Regions from separate parts of the Homo sapiens genome. Here region 1 is linked to region 2. Evidence: fine-mapped expression QTL. Tissue or cell type: whole blood. Region 2 holds a variant in brackets; the other region holds the start of a gene. All regions are shown on one strand. Distances are between the middles of the regions.

Region 1 (2,684 bases), 490 kb after region 2:
ATACAAAGTGACACACCTGCCCCCAAAATGTTTTTAAAGCACTTGACTCCAAGAACATTTCTCAGAAATTGAGGAGCCTACCAAAAAAAAAGAGTTCCATTTCATTTTAAAGTGTTTTAATAAAGACTGCAAGAAACATAACTGCAAATGAGAAATAAAATTTCAACAATTTAGCACTGAACACAAAATGTCTAAAAGTCAAGGTGTACTGAGCAAGCAACACGCTATAAAAGACGGTTGTACTTTAAAACATTTAAGCATTTTTCATATAATTAGCTCCAACAGAACTATTCCAATTGTTCACTTTATCCACCCAAAGCAGTCAACCACAACCACCTGCAACTATTATTCAGCAATGTGCCTTCCAAAGCAACCACCTGAGTTTGGGGCCTTCTCTCAAGGGGCCAGGATAAAGCCTGTAAAAGGGTGGTATAAAGAGATCTTTTAGGCATTGGGGGGAAAAAAAACTGGAAGACACCACCTTGAAGGAGCTAAGCGTAATGCGACCCAAATGGTGGCTGCCGGAACGAAGTTGTCTAAACCGAAGATCTCCCTCTTCTTCGGTGTAAAACTTTCAGATACATCCACGCTCACAATTTACCTGAGCCAAAGTAAGGGGATTCTCTTCCCTCTCCGACCCCCCACCCACCCCGCCAGAAGAAAAAGAATCGAACCCTAAAGTAGAAACGTGAGATCTAGTGCAATAAAATAGGTTCTGCAACTGCCTCAAAGGCAACATGCACAGCTCATCGTCCTTTTGAAATACACTTCATCTTTTATCTCACCATTTCATCGAAAAGAAAAGAATCATCTTCAGCATTTTACATCACTCACCTAACCCAAAGATCCACCCTGACCGCACCCCAACCTCATGGCTCCCCAATTTCTCCGTCTCCCCACTACCTCGTCCGCGGCTTCACTAGTCCTAAGCCTCCCCCCCTCCGCTCCCCAAGTGCCCAGAGCCCCAGTCCCCACTCCCCCACCTCCCGCCCCAGGATCCCCACATCTACCGCCTCGGCTCCCGCCCGATCCCGGAGCCCGGCTGGGTGGAGCCCGCGGGTGGGCGCCGGTGGTCTGGGTGGGGCCCGCCCCTCCCCACCCCCCGGGCTGCCGAGGAGGGGGAGGGGGTCGCGAAGCCTCACCTACAGCTCCGCCCCTCCCCGGGGGCGCGTTGCCCTGCCCAGCCCAGCCCGGGCCGTGAGCAAGAAGCTGGGTAGGAAAGGCGAAAGCCTCAGCACTAGCGACAGGGGGGAAGCTCTGGGTCCCGCGCGACTTCCGCGCTGTCGCCGCCGCCGCGGCCGTCTCACCGTCCTCAGGGCTGCCGCTACTGCTGCTGCTGCCGCCCAGGCACCGCCGCCGCCGCCACTACCGCCGCCGCCGCCGCCACAGCACGGCCCAGGCGCCCGCGACGTCACCGCGCCCCGCCCCCTGCGCGAGACACCTAGCCCCGCCCCCAGCCCCGCCGCGGGGCGCAGCGCGCCTCCCCGGGCTCCCGGCTCGGCTGCCTCCCTTTCCCTCAGCCTCCCGGGAGCGTGACGCGGCGGCCCGGGGGCCTCCGGGCGCCTTCCGGGGCACGCGGGTGAGGAACTGGGAAGCGGGGGAAATCGGCGCCACGGCGGTCGATTAGCACCGAAACAGAGTGATGGGCGCGGAGCGTCCCTGCACACACACACACACTCACACACACACACACACGACCCCTGCGGCCACGGGAGGGGAGAGCCGGGGTCGGCTCCGCGAGCGCAGGGTGGCGCTTGTCTCCTCCTGCTTGCCGTAGGAAGTGGACGCTGGAAGCCCGAGGAGCCGCTTCGTGTCTTCCCAAACCTAAGCGGCGCCCCACCCCCTACTTCTCGTGGCCCGTTACGCCCGGGGCAGCCAAGCGCCGCGGGAGCAGCGCCGGGATCGACCCTGGCTGCTGGGGGGACGCTTTGTCCCAAGAAAGCTGGTTTTTTGCCCCTTAGCTTCGTGGAACGCGGCCGCGAAATTAGTGGTCTTCTGACCTGAGACTCGCGGGGCTGCGCACACGGGCATCGCCGAGGACCCCAGCAATGGACGTCGTGTCTGTGGTGATCCCGCCAGGACGCGGGGAGCGTGGGCGGAAATTAGTGTCCACGTTCCGACCCTGCGCTGTGCCAAACGCTGCTTCGGGAGCTGTTTATTTAGCCTCCGACAGCTAAGCGAATCGGCGGGCGGCTGGGGCCTGGTGCAACCCGATTTTCTCGTGCAGACTCGCAGCCGGCTTTGGTTTTGTTTTTTGTTTTTTGTTTTTTTTTTGGAGCCATGCAGAGGGTAGCTACAGCCATTAATTTAAGGATGTAGATAAGCTATCTCTAAACCAAGAAAGTAAGAATGGTGTGAATTATATTTATTCCCAGCCTTCCAGTGTTTATTAAAATAATTTTCGGTGTCCTTGAGAGGAGTTAAAAGCCATCATTTTACTCCTGCTTACCTCCGCCACCGTAATTAACCACTTTATACTGCCTCATAATCCCATTAACAAATTGCAGTCGCTCCTCAGCCTTCACATTCATTCACTCACCAGTTTCTACTGTTTCATCCTGCCCGGACTCTTAACTGTTCCCTCCCAGGATCGACATGCACTTGGATCATTGCAGTTTCTGGGCCTGCTGTCATCTCCCCCTTCAGTACTTCCCACATATGACTACCAACTGTTAGACGATGTG
Region 2 (2,684 bases):
AAGAAATACAAATGGCTAACAAACACAAAAATAATACCCAATTTCATTAATAATTAAATATGGCCAGATGCAGTGGCTCACGCCTGTAATCCCAGCACTTTAGGAGGCCAAGGTGGGCAGATCACAAGGTCAGGAGTTCAAGACCAGCCTGGCCAATGTGGTGAAACTCTGTCTCTACTAAAAATACAAAAACTAGCCAGGCGTGGTGGCGGGCGCCTATAATCCCAGCTACTTGGGTGGCTGAGGCAGAAGAATTGCTTGAATCCAGGAGGTGGAGGTTGCAGTGGGCTAAGATCACGCCACTGCACTCCAGCCTGGGTGACAGAGCGAGACTCTGTCTCAAAAAAAAAAAAAAAAAAAAAGAAATATAAACTTGACCAGGTTTGGGGACTCACACCTGTAATCCCAGCACTTTGGGAGGCTGAGGCAGGCAGATCACTTGAGCCTAGGAGTTCAAGACCAGCCTGCGCAACACAGCGAGACCCCATCTCTACAAAAAACTAAAACAAAAAAATTAGTCAGGTGTGGTTGTGCGTGCCTCTAGTTCTAGCCGCTCTGGAAGCTAAGGTGGGAGGAACTCTTGAGCCCAGGAGGTTGAGGCTGCAATGAGCTATGTGATTGTATTGCTGCACTCTAGCCTGCGCAACACAGCGAGACCCTGTCTCAAAAAAAGAAAAACAAGACCCAGCACGGTGGCTCACGCCTGTAATCCCAGCACTTTGGGAGGCTGAGGTGGCAGGCGCATCACGAGGTCAAGAGTTCGAGACCAGCCTGACTAGCATGGTGAAACCCCATCTCTACTAAAAAAAATACAAAAAATTAGCCGGGCATGGTGGCGTGCACCTGTAGTCCCAGCTACTCAGGAGGCTGAGGCAGGAGAATTGCTTGAGCCCGGGAGGCGGAGCTTACAGTGAGCCGAGATCACGCCACTGCACTCCAGCCTGGGCGAGAGCAAGACTCCATCTCAAAAAAAAAAAAAAGGAAAAGAAAAACTCAAAACAAACAAACGAACAAGAAATATAAACTACAGAGTTGGCTAGGGCATGGGAAGTGGGAACAGCAGAGCAACGACCTGTGGGACAATTGTAGGGAGGTGAGCAATTTGGTCTCATCAGCCAAATTTAATTGTATATGTCCTTTGACCAAATAATTCTACTTTTAGAGTATGTTCAACAGAAACACCAGTAAGAAATTTAAGAACGTATGTACAAGTATGTTTACTAAGGCAATTTGTAGGAACAAAGAATTTTTTTTTTTTTTGAGACGGAGTCTCGCTCTGTCACCAGGCTGGAGTGCAGTGG[T/C]GCGATCTCGGCTCACTGCAAGCTCCACATCCCAGGTTCACACCATCCTCCTGCCTCAGCCTCCCGAGTAGCTGGGACTACAGGTGCCCGCTACCACGCTCGGCTAATTTTTTGTATTTTTAGTAGAGATGGGGTTTCACCATGTTAGCCAGGAAGGTCTTGATCTCCTGACCTCGTGATCCGCCCGCCTCAGCCTCCCAAAGTGCTGGGATTACAGGCGTGAGCCACCACGCCCGGCTGGAACAAAGATTTTTTAAAGACCTCATTGAAGCTGGGCGCAGCGGCTCACGCCTATAATCCCAGCACTCAGGGAGGCCGAGGCAGGTGGATCACGTGAGGTCAGGAGTTTGAGGCCAGCCTGGCCAAAATGGTGAAACCCCGTCTCTACTAAACATACAAAAAAAATCGGTCACATGTGGTGGTGAGTGCCTGTAGTTCCCAGGTACTCGGGAGGCTAAGGCACAAGAAAAGCTTGAACCCCAGAGGCGGAGGTTGCAGTAAGGCGAGATCGCGCCACTGCACTCCAGCCTGGGTGACAGAGCAAGACTCTGTCTCCAAAAAAAAAAAAAAAAAAAAAAAAAAAAAAAAAAAAAAGCTCTCAGTGGCTGGAAGGAGTTTTGATTTTACTTTTACTTTACATACTTCTGTACTGTTTATAGCACAAGCAACATCAATTTTGCAATAAGAAATATACCAAAATATATAACATAAATACCTTTTAAAACTGTATATACTTTTAAAGGCATAATTCTGATACTCTACGACCTTAAGAAGGGAAAAATTGAAGTGTATAAAATATCCACTCAAAAAGTATTAACCAACTGGCCAATAAAAAGGAACGAAGTTCTGACACGTGACATTATGTAAAGCTACACTATGTAAAGTATATAAAAACATTACATTAAATGAAAGAAGCCGGTCTCAACAGACCACGTCTTGTATGATTCTATTCTTTTTTTATTTTTGAGACAGGGTCTCATTCTGTTGCTCAGGCTGGAGTGCAGTGTCAGGATCTCAGCTCACTGCAACCTCCACCTCCCAGACTCAAGTGATCCTCCTGCCTTAGCCTCCCAAGTAGCTGGGACTATATGCACATGCCACTACACCTGGCTAATTTTTGTATTTTTTTGTAGAGATGGGGTTTTGCCATGTTGCCCAGGCTGGTCTCGAACTCCTGGGCTCAAGCGATCTGCCCACCTTGGTCTCCCAAAGTGCTGGGATTACAGGCGTGAGCCACCATGCCCAGCCTGATTCCATTCTTGATGAAATTCCAGAGTAGCCAAATCCAGAGTTGGGAAGTAAGAGTGGCAGCTGCTTGGGGCTGGGGTAGGATGGGGTGATTGGCAGTGACTGCTAATAGGTGGGGGCTTCCCTTTGGGGTGA

Evidence for each region. PIP is the estimated chance that this variant, and not a neighbour inherited with it, causes the effect.
Region 1: ERC1 starts here. The variant in region 2 is fine-mapped to the expression of ERC1 in whole blood (INTERVAL, PIP above 0.99).

What each region holds. Positions count from the first base shown.
Region 1 is chr12:989,946-992,629 of GRCh38, reverse strand. It overlaps ERC1 (ELKS/RAB6-interacting/CAST family member 1), which reads right to left and starts at 1,407. Exons shown (of 19, transcript NM_178040.4): 1 at 1,308-1,407. It also overlaps a transcript of RAD52 not described here. RefSeq lists silencers at 593-887, 1,093-1,602, 1,623-1,732, 2,143-2,192 and enhancers at 891-1,452, 2,014-2,576.
Region 2 is chr12:1,482,880-1,485,563 of GRCh38, reverse strand. The region is part of intron 18 of ERC1 (ELKS/RAB6-interacting/CAST family member 1); the gene reads right to left. Among named protein-coding and RNA genes, the nearest start is that of LINC00942, 16 kb to the left of the region's middle. The variant T/C (reference allele first, on the strand shown) is at 1,302.